Regions from separate parts of the Homo sapiens genome. Here region 2 is linked to region 1. A link means that fine-mapping ties the variant in region 1 to the expression of a gene that starts in the linked region. Tissue or cell type: lung. Region 1 holds a variant in brackets; the other region holds the start of a gene. All regions are shown on one strand. Distances are from middle to middle.

Region 1 (8,323 bases):
ACAGCAAGAACAAACATGGCTGGGTTTCAGATTTCCATGTCTGCTTTTCTTTTAATGCATCTTCCGGTAGGACATTGAATTTTTCACAATATCAGCCTCTCAGGTCACCTACCATGGGAGGAATCTGGCACCTAGTAAAAGCACCATCCAAATTTGTTGAAGGAAGGAAGAAAGAAGGAAGGAAGGAAGGAAAAGGAAGGAGAAGGAAGGGAGGAAGGAAGGAAGGAAGGAGAAGGAAGGAAGGAAGGTAGGCAGGCCGGCAGGAAGGCTGGCATTATGGAGAACTGGCAGAAGCAAGAGAGGGAAGGAAGGAAGGAAGGAAGGGAGAGGGAAGGAAGGAAGAAAGGGAGGGAGGGAAGGAGGGAGGGAGGGAATGGAGAACTGGCAGAAGCAAGAGAAGGAAGGAAGGAAGGGAGGAAGGGAGGGAGGAAGGGAGGAAGGAATGACTTATGGAGAACTGGCAGAAGCAAGAGCTGAGCGCTGCAGTTTCAGCCAAGTGGTCCCTTGTAGATGACCCTGGACGGTCAAGGTGCTGATGCCTGGTTTCTCTCAGAAGCTCAGCATGACTATGTCCCATGCAGGGCCGTTTTCCCTCCCTGATTTGAACTCGCCTCGTAAGTTTATTTATACCTGTCTCAGGACCTAAAGCCAGCATTTTCCCTGGTGACAGGCACCAACAACTGGACACCATCTCTTACCAGAAACCCCTCTCTTTTCCCCCAGGGCGGACCGCCACCTACCGCGGATGCTTCCGACTGCCAGAGAACATCACACATGCCTTCCCCAGCTCCCTGATACAGGCCAATGTGACCGTGGGGACTTGCTCGGGCTTTTGTTCCCAGAAAGTAAGACCAAGTGATCATTTCACAACCCTTTCCTTTAAGTGTGTGTGGTGGTCCTGAGAGAGGGGGGCACATGTGCTGGGCTGCGGGTGTCCCCTCTGGCAGTCCAGATGGGAGCAGAGGAAGGGGGCATGGATGGGAGGCAGGCACCAGGTACCACAGAGGGAGCCGGCAGGGAGCCCTTCGCCTCTGTCCACCATGTGAGGCTGGGTGGGGAATTGTCAGCAAGGCTTGTAAAGCCGAAAGGAGAGTGCCTTTCTGGATGCGAACTCTTGCCACAAGTGTCAGATGTTAAATTGACTTGGTTTGGAAGCCAGAAGATGCTGGCTCGGGACTTGGGGATAGCTGATGGATTTTCTGTTATTGGTGCTGACGGTGTTGGGCCGTGAATCTGATGACAGGGGCTGGAGCCACACTTGCATCTTTGGTTTAGCCTGGGCTGAGGAGTAGAGCGTGACCCCATGGAGGGGCAGGGCTAGGCACCAAAGGCCACTGACCCCGCATTGCATGGTAGCTCTGGGGTGGGGAAAGTTGGTCAAGGCCAGAGGTGGCTTGCAAAAAGCAGGGCCTGGAGTGTGTGAAGCAAGGCTGGGGGAGACCCAGCAGACTGTGTCCAAAGAACATTGAGATCTCGGGCTGGAGTCAGGCAGACTCCAGATTGGGGTGGATGCTGTGGCTCTAGAAATGGCCCTTGGTGGCAGTAGGCTTGGGGCTGGGGCTGTTTCACATGCGCTGGGATTGCTGTACCCTCAATGTGGCTTTGATACTTGGCAATGTAATAGAACAGGGCTAAGGTGAGAGGATGGCCTTGGCCAGGATGATGATGACGATTATGACAATCAACAGAAGCTGCCATTCGTTGATCGCTCATTCCATGCCAGGTACTGTTCCAAGCGCTTTATGGGTTAACTCATTTAATCCTCCTAACAACCCTACAGCTAGGTGCTGTGATTATCTGCATTTTCCAGGTGAGGAAACTGAGGCAGAGGGTTTGAGCCGTGTGCCTGAGGTCACACAGCCAGTAAGTGGTGGGGTCAGGGTTTGAACTCAGGTAGCTCCATAGTCTGCTGTGGGTTGAAGGGTGCAGGGGTGGACTTCAATGACAGCAGATGTGATCGGATCTGCAGGAGCAGCACAGCCATCCTCTGCTGCACCCCCCCACTCCCGCTCTCCCTGCTTCATGTGTTCCTCCGCACTCTGGGGACACCTCCCTTGGAGGGGGCTGGAGAACAAGGGGGCTGGACACCTCCCTTGGAGGGGGCTGGAGGGGGCTTTCATATGTGCTTTCTTCTTGTCCAAGTGCATCCTTTGAAGTGGCTCTCCTGCGTCACCAGCATTTCCGAAGCCACAGCCAAGGATGTCTTGGGCATCAGGGCACCCACGACACAATTAAATGAGCCAAAAAGGCAGTTTGTTGATTTGCGGACATCTGGCCTGGGGACCTCCTCATCCCTTCTCCTCCTCATGGGAGCAGAGCGATGGGTAGAGGCAGCAAGGATGCGCGCTCAGCTGCCGGCCCTGCTGGTGCTCTCAGGAGAATGAGCCACCCTCCTAGGGCTTCCCTCACACCTGCAGCTCAGAGCAGTTCCCTTGAGAGGCCCTCTGGTTGGAATCAAAGGAACTCTGTGGTCCAGACCAGGCTGGAGGCAGGCCTGCCTTGAGCAACCAGCTTGGATAGTCCTGCTGTGTGCTGGGCATGGCACTAGGAGCCTTCCTGCGGGGGGTTATCTGCTTTAATCCTCCCAGTAGCTCCCAATGGGGGATACTCAGATGCCTGCTTGCTGCGAGAGGCTGGGCAGGTGTGCAGAGCTGAGAGCCCTCAAACACAGGCACAGAGTGGCCGGCTTTGCAGCTCCTGCTCCTGATGCCACACACAGCCACACACTGGCACAGAGCGGCCGGCTTTGCAGCCCTTGCTCCTGACGCCACACACAGCCCGTGGTTTTACACACTGCTGCCATTCGGCGTTATGGAAGGGGGAAGAGACGGAGAAGATGAGGAGGAAGAGAAGGGAAAGAAAGGGGTGGCCATTGTGGCCATGAGCCATTAGTGTTTCGGACTAGTTTTAAATAGGAACATGCTTACTTGGAGCATAATGAAGACGCCAAAGGGCATAGCAGGGAAGCCTTCCTCTCACTCCATGCATTTCCTTGCCTGGATTGTCCTGGCTTCTCATGTCTACTTCCAGAGAGACTGAATATTCAAGCAACTGCATCCTTGCCCATTCTCTAACAAGCCCCGCAGCCGGGCAGGAGCTGCACCCGCCCTTCTGCACTGAACTCTTCACCGGACAGCCTGTCTCGGAGATTGTCTCACGTCGCGACACAAAGTGCTTTCTCATTCTTTTTTACCATTGCACGGAGGTCCTATAATTTATTTAACCAGTTTAGCATTTCGCCTATTTCCAGCCTTCACAAACGATGCGGCAGTGACTACCTGTGTATGTACGTAGATCACTTTGTGTGAGTGAATCTGTAAGAAAAATATTCCTTGGAGATGCTGGGTCAAAGACTGAGTGTCTTTATCATTTTGGTAAACTTTGTCAGGTTGTCCTTGGCGAGGATTGTATTCATTTTATACCCCGATCAGTGATGTGTGAGGGGGAGGCAAGGCACCCTCGTAACCCTTATTTTGTGTGTGTTGGGGGGCTCAAAGCAGCATTTTAGGCAGATGCCTCAGTTTTCTGGGGGTCCTCCCTTTGTGTACCTCATTAGGGCCCAGAGAGTTCTTTCTTTTTTTTTTTTTTTTGAGACAGTGTTCCGCTCTGATGCCCAGGTTGGAGTGCAGTGGTGTGATCATAGCTCACTGTAGCCTCTGGCTCCTGGGCTCAAGTGATCCTCCCACCTTGGCCTCCTGAGTAGCTGTGACTACAGGCACACACTACCATGCCCAGCTAATTTTTTTGTGTATTTTTTGCAGAGACAGGGGGGCGGGGTGGGGGGGGTCTCACCAAGTTGCCCAGACTGGTCTTGAACTCCTGGGCTCAAGCAATCTGCCCTCCTTGGCCTCCCAAAGTGCTGGGATTACAAGCATGAGCCACTGTGCCCGGCTGGTCCAGAGAGTTTGTATTTGTGATTACAGACAAGAATTTAAAGGCTTATAACTCTTCAACTTGTATTTTCAGCCTTCCTTCATATTTACTGGCATAAATCCAGATTGCTGCAGTTTCACACTGGAGCATGTGCCAGAAGATACACGCAGGCTCTTGGTGTCTTGTGCTATCACACATTAGCACCTTGTCCATCTCCCCTCACAACGCATTTCAAGGACAAGTTCCCTTCTCTGCTATGGCCGGAGCAGTCGTGAATTGTTTGGGTCAGAACTACATGGAAAGGGCATCCAGGTTTCTCAGAAACAGCCTCTGTCCTCAGCACTCA[C/G]AACACTGGAGCCAGTGCTGACACCTGATCCTTATCCGGGCTGCCTCTGCGTGGTCAGATGGGACTGGGAGGGTGGTGTTTCCTGAGTTCCATTGTTTAGGGCTGCAACATTTGCAGCTGTGAGGAACAGAGTCATCATTTCCAGCTTTAAAGTTTAAAGTGGGTATTGGCAGCGCATATTTAGTGGGACTTGGCAAAACGCAAATGCTGAGACGGTGGGCACAGCCAGGGGCAGGTGACTCTCACTGGTGGCAGAGTAAGGGCAGTGCCTGAAGAAGGTGAAGAAGGCTTGGAAGGAGGCTGAGAAAGGAAGATGGTTGCAACTTTTGGGAAGGGTTGGAACTGGAGGATGTGGGGCAGTGTTGGCAGGTGGCTGAGGGGATTAAGGAGTGTGTTCCAAGAAGAGGCAACTGCTGAGCAGGAACCAGGTGGCAGGAAAGCAGCCCAGGTGGCCCAGCGTGCAGGGTTACTTGGGGGGCTGTGAAAGGTCAGGGGGTACAAATTGCAGAGGGCTTTGTGATACAAGAGTTATTAAGAAGTTATTTTAGGCAGAAAGTAAGGTTCTGGGTGGAAATTTTCCTGTAATAAGAAACAACCCCCAAACCATCTCTTTTCTAACAGAAAAGGCGGCTTAAAGGGCCAGGCACGGTGGCTCATGCCTGTAATCCCTGCACTTTGGGAGGCTGAGGTGGGCGGATCATGAGTTCAAGAGATTGTGACCATCCTGGCCAACATGGTGAAACACTGTCTCTACTAAAAATACAAAAATTAGCCAGGTGTGGTGGCGCCTGCCTGTAGGCCTAGCTACTCAGGAGACTGAGGGAGGAGAATCGCTTGAACCCAGGAGGCAGAGGTTGCAGTGAGCCGAGATCACACCACCGCGCTCCAGCCTGGGCGACAGAGCAAGACTCTGTCTCAAAAACAAAAAAAAAAAGAGAGCAACTGGGTTCACTCAATATGGTGATTCCCACTGTCTTTTCCTTGTTACCAGGTGTACCGAGTGTCATGGCCACCTCCAGATAACACCATGTGTTCAGAACATCATGATGACCTGCATTTGCATATTAAAGGACTAAGGTGGGAGGGCCAGGTTTTTCAAGGGCTACGTAAATGACACACCTGGTCAAACCAATCCCCTGGGCCTTATGGAACGCAGACACCGCTTCCTCCAGCATCCCAATATAAGCAGCCACTTTTCCGCTGCACACGGGGTTTTCTCTTTGTTCAAATCCCCCCTCCCTCTGTCTCTGTACGGGGAGCTGTTTTCTTCTTCCTTCCTTCTTTCTTGCCTGTTAAACTTTTCACTCCTTAAAATCACCCCACATGTGTCCATGTCTAAACCGGCACGAGACCAAGAACCCTGGTGTCCCTCCAGTCATCAGAGCCATATAGCTTGAATGCCTGCCTCAAGGTTGAGACTTTTTTCAGTGGGTGGGAGGGGCTGGTATGGCTTGTGTGGCACTTTATAGCTGCAGGTAGGATGTTCTGGAGCACGGAGAGGATGAGAGCTAATAAAGAAGGGAGTAGGTCTAAGAGACACCACAGGGTTGGAATCCACAAGAGAGGATGTGGGGGCATGAAAGAAGGAGTGGGAACCCCCAGGGAGGAGGATGAGGCATGGATGGGTTTGTGGGTGAGCGGGGCAGCTGACCTGTCCAATGTGGGAGGGAAGTTCTCCTTGGATCCTTCTGGGATACAGCATTTCTCAGGGGTACCCTCAGAGATGCCTTGGCAAAGCTGCCACAGAAGTCGACCTGTGACCTGGTTCTGGAGTTAGGGATTTCAGGTAGGGCAAGAACAGTGCCCTGGATGTCATGCCTTTAAGTCAAACCGCCATCTGCCCAACGGAGCGAGCCTTTGGCTCCCAGATTGTCCATCCATTCTCGCTTGTCTCGCCCGTGGATGTGGGTGTAACTTGAACTCAAACCGTCTGTACTGTTAGCCCCTCAGCTCTGAGCTCTGCAGATGCCTGGCAGGGGTTTTGCTGGAATTCTGACTTCACTCTAGAGCAGGGGTTCACAGCCTTGGATCTGTTGGCATTTGGGGTTGGATATTACTCATGTTGGGATCTGTCTGTGCATTGTAGGATATCTAGCAGCATCCCTAGCCTCTACCCACTAGATGCCAACAGCCCATATTCCCTCAGTTGTGACACACAGTCCCCACACATTGCCGTATGTCCTCTGGAGGGTAAAATCACCCCTGGTTGAGAACCACAGCCCTGGAGAGCCACCTGAAGATGCCAGGCAGCCATGCCCAGTCATGGCCCATATCCCCGTGGGGCTGAATCCTGGGGAGCAATGGTCTCTTCCAACCATTGTGAGGATGGAGAAGCAAATTCTCCCTCTAGTATTGAGGTCTGATGGATGTGAAATTGTTTGGAAGTTGATCTGACCCAGACCTGCAGAGGCCAGAGAACTCTTTGCAGGGAATGGTATCCTCTCTTCCCTCCTGAATGTTGAGGGTGGCGAGAGAGGTGAATCTGGGGATGTCTGGCCGTATTTGCCTGCTCTGAAGTGCCAAGCACGTCCTCTCTGGAAAGGCCAGTGGTGTGGAGGCTGCCTGGCAGTCCCGGTGGCAGCTTTATCTCATCCTAATTTGGCCGAAAAACAAGCTCAAATGTCCTATGATGTGGGAATGGTTAAATTATGCCACGGCCATACAGTGGACTATAATACAACCATTGAAAATGTTTTCAAAGACTTTGATGATGGAAAATGCTCACAGTAGAATGTTAAATGGGGCAGAGCTGAGCCTGGGGGTAGGAAGCTAGGGGCTTAATTAGAGCTGGCCGGGCAGTGGGGCTGGGAGCAGCAGATGTGAGAGGTGGGGCTTGGAAACAGGAAAAGAGGAGGGGGTTCCTTGTAGTGCCCCCACCTTTGAGCACCATCTGAGGCTTATTTGTGGCCCCAGATAAAATGTCTACTGTTTTTGCTAGTTCGCGAAAATGGATTTGGGGAGATCCAAGAGTGTAGTTTGACAGAAAAAGAACATTCCAGGTGATATCTGCATCTTAATGATCTGACTCTCTGCCAGCAAGAGGGAATTGACCAATGTAATGTGTTTTTAAAGCCCAGTGAAATGATCTTGTCTAATTTCCTGTGATCGTATGGAGATGGAAAGAGACCTGCTCATTCTCAGTCCCCTTCAGGATCCTATCGGCTCCTTTGTTTCAACGCAAGGCAAGAGTGAGCAGGGGGCAGCTTCGATATTTGCATTGCTACCAATTCAGATCTGGGGTAATTAGTTTTGTCGCCTGATATTTGTGCTCAAGTAGATAGGCCATTTGTGGGGGTGCTCCGAAAGGAGGCTGATGAGCGAAATCTAACACCATCTGCAAATAGGTTACTAATGTGAGACACTCCACCGGCGATTATACCTTGTGATGTGAGGTTTGTTCTCCCAGCTGCTGTTAGTGATTCTACTGATAAAGGAATCGCAGGGAGAGGAGGAAGAAAGGTGTTGAGCTTTCTTTTTCCCCTCTTTTAGCCTCTTTTGGGCGTCTAAATTCTTTACGCATTAATCACCTGGATGTTTTCCCATTGACATTTCTTCTAAGTTTTTTTGCTTGTTTGGCCATTTAATGGTGGTGCTCATCTAGCCACCTTTCAAATGGAAAAGCATGCATTAATATGGAACCTGTTTGTTCTCAGCTGGGCAGCTGCTCTTGCAAAATCCACTTGGATTCCAATAGATTCGGTCTATCCAAGGTAGCCTTATGGTCTCCATGGGGCACCCAAGTTCATGTCTTTGCCAATGGTTGGGTCTGTAAGAGTCTGGGTTTTGTGAGCCTTGAGAATAAGAATTTTCTCTTTGACAAAATGCTGTAGTCATTCCAAGAGCTATTGGATATGCTTTGAATTGCTTATAAAAAGTCTGTGGTAAACCTGTTGATACTGTACTCTCTGCATATTTTGAAAAACACGTATTGTTTGTTTTTCTGGGGGGTTAACACATATCTATTTTAGAGAATTTGAAAATTTTCCAAGTGCAGAAATAAAAATAGAATGCACCTGTAACAACTAATAACATTGAACATCTTTTTGGTCTTTTGTTCTAGGTGTATCTCTACGTAATTTGTTTTATAAACATTGACTCATTCCT
Region 2 (8,323 bases), 29 kb before region 1:
TTCTCTCCATCTCTGAATGATGCTTTTTCAGATGAGGCAGTGTCCAGAGGAGCAAAAGGCAACCTTCACAGGTGAGACAGTCAAGCCCGTGTCACCTTGTGGGCCAACATCTTGGTGGAGCATACAGCCAAGCTGCATGGGTAAAGGAGATTACTGAGGTGCCTCTGGGTGTCGATGGAGCACCTGCTTCCTCATCCCACCACGGTCCCTGGCAGGGGCACGCGGTGCAGTGAGCCATCCGCACTCATCCTCTGGGTCTCCCTGGTGGCCAGTAGAATCCAATGGACTGGATACAGGGATCAGTCTGTGACCAGAGCAAGGGGAAGCAGCCTCTTGAATTCTTGGGAAGAAACATGACGACTGTGGGAAGCCTTCTTGGGTTTATTAAAAATATGTCATGCTAGGCACATCATGTTTTTAAAAACACAATTATTTATTTAATAAATATTTAGTAAGTATGCCTATGTACCAAGAATTCAACTTGGCACCAAGGATAAAGTTCTGAATGTGATAGTAAGTTCCCGGGCCATATTAGAGCTTAAATTCTAGCAGTGGGGGCTGTGAGGGTTGGGAAGGAGACAACAGATCATAAACCAACAAACACACAAAGAGATGATAGGGCAATGTTCCATGAAGACTGGAAACTGGACAGTGAGGTGGATGCTTTAGCCAGAATGACAGGGCAGGCTCTGGGGCGGTGGCATGTGGAGGAAGAGAACGTATCACAAGCTTGGTGGCTCAGTAGAACATTGCACATGTGGCATTTCTGGATTTTAGCAAAGCTTTGGGGAAAACCCCTTCTTGTAATATTTACTAAAATGTGTTATGTGCGTATTCCATGGCAAATGTTGTTTTGCTTCACACTCAACAGACATTTTATTTGGTCCTTACAAGCACTCCCATAAAGGAGGCATTTTCTCTGATTTGCAGATGACAGTGTTGAGGCCCAGAGAGATTGTGACTTGGTCAAGGCGAGAGAGATATGAGCCCCACGCCCGGCCCTCACCCCCACGTGGGCTTGTCACCCCCATGCCTATGACTAGTCAGGCTGCCTTTGTCAACATGACATAGAAGTGTAGGATGGCTGATGACTCATAACTGGTTGAATGACCATTTCCACGGCTGATGATGACTAGATGACCACCGTGAAGGGAGCTCATCATAGTGGTGGCTCAAGCGTGGTCCACAGCCCTGCCTTGTCCACTGGTGCCAGTGGCCTGAATGGGGGTTCAGTGGCTAGTCGGGGTTCAGTGGCCAGTCACAGTTCAGCCTCCTCTCCAACCACCTCTGACCTTGCACCAGCTAGTGCAAAGTCACTGGCAGTTTCTGTGACAGCCTGTGTGTTTCACACTTCCCTGCCTTTGCAAAGGATGCCCCCCACCCTTGTCTGGAATGGCCCCTGCACCTGGTGACCCAGATGATGCCCACTTCTCCTCTAAAAGCCAGCTTACATGTCACCTCCTCCAGGAAGCCTTCCCTGAATTCCTCCACACTGAGGTTGCGAGTCATTTAGGTTCCAATGCTCGCTCTATCTATCTCTCTATCTATCTCTCTATCTATCTATCTATCTATCTATCATCACAGCTAGTTGCCATCCCAGCAGCCATCTACTAACATAGAAACAATTTTGATCAAGTGGGGATGCGCTCTGAGATGACTGGCCTATCCCCAGAGGATGAATTATAATTAGCCAAACCCATTCCTCCTTGGCCAGGTATTGGCTGAGGGGTACTCACAGGGTTCACTTCTGGCCAATGGGCCTTGCCAGAAGGAGGATCTGGCAAAAGTTTCCTTATCCAGTGAAAAAAGAAACTTGTGGGAAGAAGTGTCCCTTTCTTTCTTGCCTTAGGGTATTGTCATTTGGGGAAGTCACGAACAGCGCTTCAGTTGTCATTTTGCAGTCATGAGGGGGCGGTCCAGGGAGCACAGAGAGGCCACCACAGATTCTGACATCATTGAGTGACTGAATCACCCAACCTTGGAACTGCCTACCTCCAGGCGTCTTGCTGTCTGAGATCATAAACCCTTTGCTTGACACCACTTTTACTTTGCTATTTGTTACTTGAGGCTGCAGGCATCCTGACTGATACAGCAGAGCTCTCTCTTTGTGGTATGTTTTCACTTTGGTCTGTTTTCTCGTCCAGTTCTTCACACTGGAAACTCCTGCAGGGGACCGGTTCTTTTTTATCAAAGACTCTCCAGTGTTCAACACAAAATCTAACACACAATGGGTGCCTTGCTTAGTAAATACATGAAAAGATGGGTGGCTGGAAGGAAGGAAGAATAAGCTATCAGATGACGTGAAGTAAGGAGGTGATGTAAATACCTAGGATCCAATAGTTGAGGTCTGCAAAGAGAGGAGCGGATGACTCAAGAGCGAAACACAGAGAGATGGGATTGATGTGACATCAGACCTGTCTGATTCTTAGTCCCAGACTCCTGGGGGGTGGGGGGATACATTTCTCAGCAGTAAATGGACATATGATGGCAGCATTGTGGGACCAATTGCTTTTGGGACAGGGATGGTATACAAGTTACTATGAAACAGTCCCAACTATGTGGAGAGAAGAGCTGAGGGACAAGGAGTTGGACTGTGATTAGGAGTGACTCTGTTATCAGTCCTCCCTATCACTTCTTACTGGTCACCATCACTAGAAAGAAGGGCTTTGTCCTGACACTGAAATACTCCTGGCCGTGTTGACTCCCAAGCCCTTCTCAATTACTTCCTGGGTTCTTTCATGCGCCTCCTTCCTCAACCTCCCTCCCTAGAGTCAGTAGTTGACTCTAGCTTCTACCCACACAGGGGCTGTATGGTGTTCCCCTGGTGGGGTGCTTTGCAGGGCAGGTGCAGCGTGACATCGAGCACAGATGGCATGGATACCCAGCAGCCTTTTGCTTTTTCTTCTTGAGTCACCTCCTTCCCTGGTGGCAGCCACATCAACTCTTCTGCTTGATTATTCTGTACCAAGTGTCTGCTGCTGCAGATGGACACTTCTGAATAGCAGCTGCCGGGAAATGTCTGGCTTCCCAGAGGAGCTGGGCTTGAATTCCCCTGGGCTCAACTGGCTGTGAGCCTTTTGTGATCACCCACCTGAAAGCCTCATCTGTCAAATGGGCACATGAAGGCATCTATAGACTTATCAGTTTTAAGTGGGACAATGGGTACGAGAGGGCCAGGGCTGGCTTCATGGGTATGAGATCTGTGAAAGGCTCTGAATTCTGTGCTCAGAAGGGACCCGTACTGGTTTAATATCCTCCTTTTATCTCTCGAAATTCTTGATAGTGTTTTAAAAGGGGGCTCCATTTTTATTTTAGGCCCTTCAAATTATGTAGCTGGTCATGGAGAGGGCTTTGCAAACCAAACAGCATTGCGAGACTGCACAGTGGGTTGCTGTTATAAATCGTAACGACACACACATTCACATTCTGTAAAGGATATATATGTGAAGGGGGCTTTTCTGCAAGGTTGGGACTCTGAGGCAGCACAGAATTCGTCTCTCACTTACTGTATCCTCTTCCTGGGCTTAAGGATATTAAATCCAGGTGCCCCAAGACCTTCAGAGCATTCTGCCTTCATGCGGATGGTGCAGACTCTGTTCTAATTCTGCACTTGGCCAGACATAGCTATGCAAACTGCAGCGAGTCTCTTCCCGCTCTGGGCGCCACCTGACTGACCCGCGTAAGGAGGGACTGTGACTGGTCCCCAGGCAAACGCTTTCCCTGCCACCTGCACCTGTTGCAAGCCAGCTCCTCGGAGCCAGGCCAAGCAGCTCTGCCCCTAGCGGGAGTCGGAGGCATGAAACTCCCTTTTAGGAAGACGGAGTAAGAGGCACCACCACCTGCTCCTGCTGCCTCTGCTGTCCTCAGCTTCTGGGAGCATCTTAGCAGCCAGCTCCGGGTGAGGACAGGGTCCACCGGTGCACATGGCAGAGCAGGGCAGATGCTGTGACTTGGCGGCTTTGGGGGAACAGGGTGGGGCTCCTCCCTGGGAAAAATCTTTAGGTTTGGATCCAGCCTTTATTTAAAGAGGGGGATTGTGTATAGACTTGTGTGACTGTTCAGCCTCTTTCCACCTCGGTGCGTGTGTGTGTGTGTGTGTGTGTGTGTGTGTGTGTGTGTGAGAGAGAGAGAGAGAGAGAGAGCCTGTGGGTCAATGCCCAGTATGCCCCTCTGAGAGTGTGTCTGTTAGTAGACACCAGTGTGTGACATTGCTTCTGTGGGCAACTATGTCAAGGCGTGGGTTTGTCACTGTGTGCGGTGTGGAGCAGTATGATAAGCCGGCGGCCGACCCCCGAGTGTGTAGACGCGGGAGCTGGTGTCAGGGTATTTGTAGGGCTGCAATTCTGTGTAGGTCTGTCTCAGATTGTGTGAGAGTGTCTGTGTTCCAGCAGGTGCTTGTTTCTGAGTGTGAATGTGTGTGAAGCTGTGACCGTCTGTCTCTAGCTCTGCATGGGACGGTGATCCGGTGTGTGTGTGTGTGTGTGTGTGTGTGCGTGCGTGTGTGGTGTGTGTGTGTATTAGAGTGCACTCTAAACTGTGTGGCTGTGTGTGTACGTGTGCGTGCCTGTCACAGTGGCCCAGTCTGCTTCTGGGTGAGTGGGGCAGAGCCCAGAGAGTGTGTGTGTGAGTGTGGGTGTCGGTGTCTCTGGGAAGCAGTGATTCGGGATGTGTGTGTCAGGCAGTGTGCGGCTGTCGCTGTGAGTCTGCATGGGAGAGTGGCGGCGTGCTCTCCTCTGCGCGGCAGTGCCCCGTGTGTTTGTGGGTCTGTGTCTGGGTGTGAGCGTCATGGTGCGTGTGTTAGAGCCCGTGGGGCCCCGGTGAAAGGCTGTGGCTCTGGGTGACTGGTGTGTGTGTGTGTGTGTGTGTGTATCAGAGTGGGTGGCGGCGTCTCTGCTCGGCAGTGGCGCGTGTGGCCCGCCCCGCGCGCGTGTTCTCGCGGGCCGGGGCAGGGCGTGGGCCCCCTCCGGCGGAGCCGCGACCCCTCCCCCGGGCGGCGGGAGGTGCGCACCGGCGCCTCTAGGACCCGGCGGCGGCCGGCCGCTGTCCCCGGGCCGCGCGAGTGAGCATGTGCAGAGCCCGGCGCCCGCTCGCCCGCCCGCTGCCCGCCCCGGCTCCGCGCCCGCCCGCCCGCCCCGCCGTTCAGCCCGGACGCCAGCAGCCCCGGGGAGCCAGGCGGCGGCGCCCTGTGCCCGGGCGCGTGGGTCCGCTTGCCGCGGGCGGCCGGAGACGTGCGGGCGCCGGGGCTTCTGGGCTCCGGGCACTGCGGGGGGCTGCGGGCTCGGCGCCCGGGGAAGGCGGGCCATGGGCGCGGGTGCGGGCGCCCCAGCCGGCCGCGATCGCGGGGTGAGTCCTGTCTCTCGGCGCTCCAGCCGGACCCCCGCGCGGGCTGCGAGCAGGGTGTTCCCCTTGCCGCGGGCAAACAAGTTTGTGCAGACGCGGTTGGGAGCGCGGCGGGGCTGCACCTGCTCCGGCTGCAGGGCGGGCTTGCCGGGGGCACCTTCCCGGGGGCCCGGGGCGGCTCGGCCGGGGCAGGGGAGAGTGAGCGGGTGCGTGCAGGGGTTGTGGGGGGGCGGGGGCGGCGCTCGGCGCGGCCGGGATGGGGTGGGGGTGCGCGAGGCGCCGCACGAGCCGCGTCCCCCTCCGGAGTCCTGAGAGCCCGTCCGTCACCCGGGAGGGCGCTGCGGTTGGTCCCGGGGAGGGGGCGAGGGCAGGGTGTGGGGTGCGCACAGCTTCCCTCCTAGGCGGCGACGTTTACCCAGAAGCAGCTCCCTCTCGTTCCGCTACCAAGAGAGGCTTCCGGTCAGCGGAGGGTTTGCTCCGTCTCTTGGTGAACTTGAACAGAGGCAGAGGCAAAAGCAAAACGTATGTATTTTGTCCAGAAAATTACCTAGTGTAGAGCTTTGCGTCTTCGTAGGTGTGGACGGAGACTCACGACTGAAGGTTGCTAAATTGCGTTTTTCTTGGCTACTCAGGAGCGTACGTACCTGGCTGGGTCCCCTGCCTCCGGGTAACCTCGCTGGTGGTTTTCCTGAGCATTTGTGCGCCTGGGATGATGCCTGCTCTGCTGATCGGGAATGCGGGTGGGGAAGGGGACCGCTCTTCCTTCCGCTGAGCAGTGGGAAGGCTCATATAGGAGTTCTAGCCTCATAGCCCTGCACTGGGATCCAGCTGCTCCCCACACTGGCCCTGCCCCTGCAGCTCCCAAGATGGACAGATGCAGGACTCCGCTGTACTTTTCTAACATGAGATACCCGCATCCCTCTTGTTGCTGGAACAGCATGCTTAGGTTTATGGAGGCACTTGGTTTATCCCACTTTGGCATCAGGAGTGGGGGCCTTTCTTTTTTCCTCTGATTTGCCTAGGTTGTCAGGCACAGAAAGTGAGGGTGGTGGGGAGTGAAAGTTACAGGAGATATAAAGCTGGCTTGCCCTGCGCTGTTTGCAATCACCCACTCCTGGTGGCTGCAGGTGCTGGGGAGAGAGCTAGGGGAGGTTTCCTTGGGCTATGGGAGAATGAGGTTTGTCTCTCTCAATCATGCCCCCACCCCCACACACTTAGATTGGCCCTCAGGAGATCCTCCGGGAAGGGGCCTCAACCGGCTGCCAGAGCTCAGGGTTTCTAGGAGGAAGAGCAGGAGCTCTCCCAGGCATGGGATCTGAAGGAGGCTTGGCGGTGGTTGGGCTGGTGGCTGAGCCTGACTGCCTCATCTTCTCCGCCAGAAGGCTCTCACCTGTGGCTGCATCCTCCAGGCCTCAGCAGGGCCATTTCCACAGCTCCTCTGTAAAAATGCCTTCTTCTGGGGTGAGGGGATCCCTCTCTTCAGTGGGCATTGTGCCCTATGGGGTACTGCCCTGTGGCCTGTGGCATGTCTGGTTGGAAGTGAAGAGAAGCTGGGATAAGGCAGAAGGCCAGACTCCTGTCTCTTCCTCCTGTCTTCCTAACCGAGCAGAAGTGGATATTCAGTGCCACTAGTGGGTCTGCTGCTGAAGCTTGAGCCTCCAACCTGATCAGTTTGGCCAGAGCACTGGGGAATGAGTCACAGAGCTGGTTCCTTATGGCATCAGCCTGAGCAGGCGACTCAGAGCCTCTGAATCCAGAGCCTCCAGGCCCTGATGGAACCCCTCCGAGCAGGGCCTCTAGGGAAGTGGTGTTTCTCATTATAGAAGCTCCAAGCTTGTACTCCCATCCAGCTCAGACCCCCATCAGCCTTGGTGAGACCAGCTCCCTGACTCTTTCTCTGGAGGTACAATGAGGTCAAGGCCAAGGACTTTGGGGCAGCTCAGTGTTTAGACCTTCAGGGCCTTAGGCCTTAAAATGCAGGTGATAATCATATACACTAGCAGGGCCAGAGCTGGGCCCTAACATCCAGGGCTGCTCATCTGGGGAATGAGGGAATGAATGTGGCTTTCCGCTCACCACCTTCTCCCTGGGCCTCCTGGTCTGGCCTTCACATTCTTCCTTTAATCTCTCCTCATCATGGCTTTGACAATCGTGCTGACATACGGCCTGAAAAATTATCGGAAGTGTGCCACTTGGAGAATGTGGTCAGGGAGGAACTCTGCATATGCCCTGCCTCCTGGTGTGGATGTGAGAAGTGGATGGAAGAATGGGCTGGATTCATTTCATCAGCTATGAAATACAGTGCACCTGCTGGTAGCTGTTAAGGCCCCTCCCCTTCACTTCGCTTCCCTTCCTTTGCTGCCGGAAGCCCCTGGAGATGTGAGCTCCCTTCTAGAGAGTGGCTCCCTTGACATGAGGGGGTCGAGAGTATTCTGAGGACAAGGATGTGCAGCAGGCTGTCTTGGCCTCTCTCCCATAGCCCGAGTGCCCAGTGGCAGCATCAAGTTGGGCAGGTCTGACTTTGGTTGGGCACTCCACTCACTTGTCCACCTGTATCCAACTCACTCCGTGGGGTTTCAACACCTGTTTACCTTCCAGATTCTGGGATGGGCTTGAGACGACCCTTAAGCTTTCAGCACCAGGTGGAAGAAACACATGAATAAGTAAACAAAATAAGATTCTATAAAAGAGATAGCCCAGGCCAGGCGTGGTGGCTCACACCTGTAATTCTGGTGTTTTGGAAGCCAAGGTGGGCAGATCACCTGAGTCCAGGAGTTTGAGACCAGCCTGGCAAACATGGCAAAACCCCATCTCTACTAAAAATACAAAAATTAGCTGGGCATGGTGGTGTGTGCCTGTAATCCCAGCTACTAGGGAGGCTGAGGCAGGAAAATCGCTTGAACCCAGGAGGCGGAGGTTGCGGTGAGCCAAGATCATGCCACTACATTCTAGCTTGGGCGACAGAGCGAGACTCCTTCTTGAA

Direction of the effects. Positions count from the first base shown, and alleles are read on the strand shown. Sizes are in standard deviations (SD) of each study's normalised expression.
In carriers of allele G in region 1, the expression in lung of the gene that starts at base 5,070 in region 2 tends to be higher than with C alone (small effect, 0.32 SD a copy in GTEx).

Evidence for each region. PIP is the estimated chance that this variant, and not a neighbour inherited with it, causes the effect.
Region 2: WSCD1 starts here. The variant in region 1 is fine-mapped to the expression of WSCD1 in lung (TOPMed, PIP above 0.99). The same link has a PIP of 0.9 or more in atrial appendage, left ventricle and skeletal muscle.

What each region holds. Positions count from the first base shown.
Region 1 is chr17:6,094,379-6,102,701 of GRCh38, forward strand. WSCD1 (WSC domain containing 1) reads left to right here. Exons shown (of 9, transcript NM_015253.2): 5 at 724-845. Among named protein-coding and RNA genes, the nearest start is that of WSCD1, 28 kb to the left of the region's middle. RefSeq lists enhancers at 1,550-2,450, 2,451-3,349, 3,983-4,750. The variant C/G (reference allele first, on the strand shown) is at 4,220.
Region 2 is chr17:6,065,310-6,073,632 of GRCh38, forward strand. It overlaps WSCD1 (WSC domain containing 1), which reads left to right and starts at 5,070. Exons shown (of 9, transcript NM_015253.2): 1 at 5,070-5,343. RefSeq lists an enhancer at 4,306-5,137.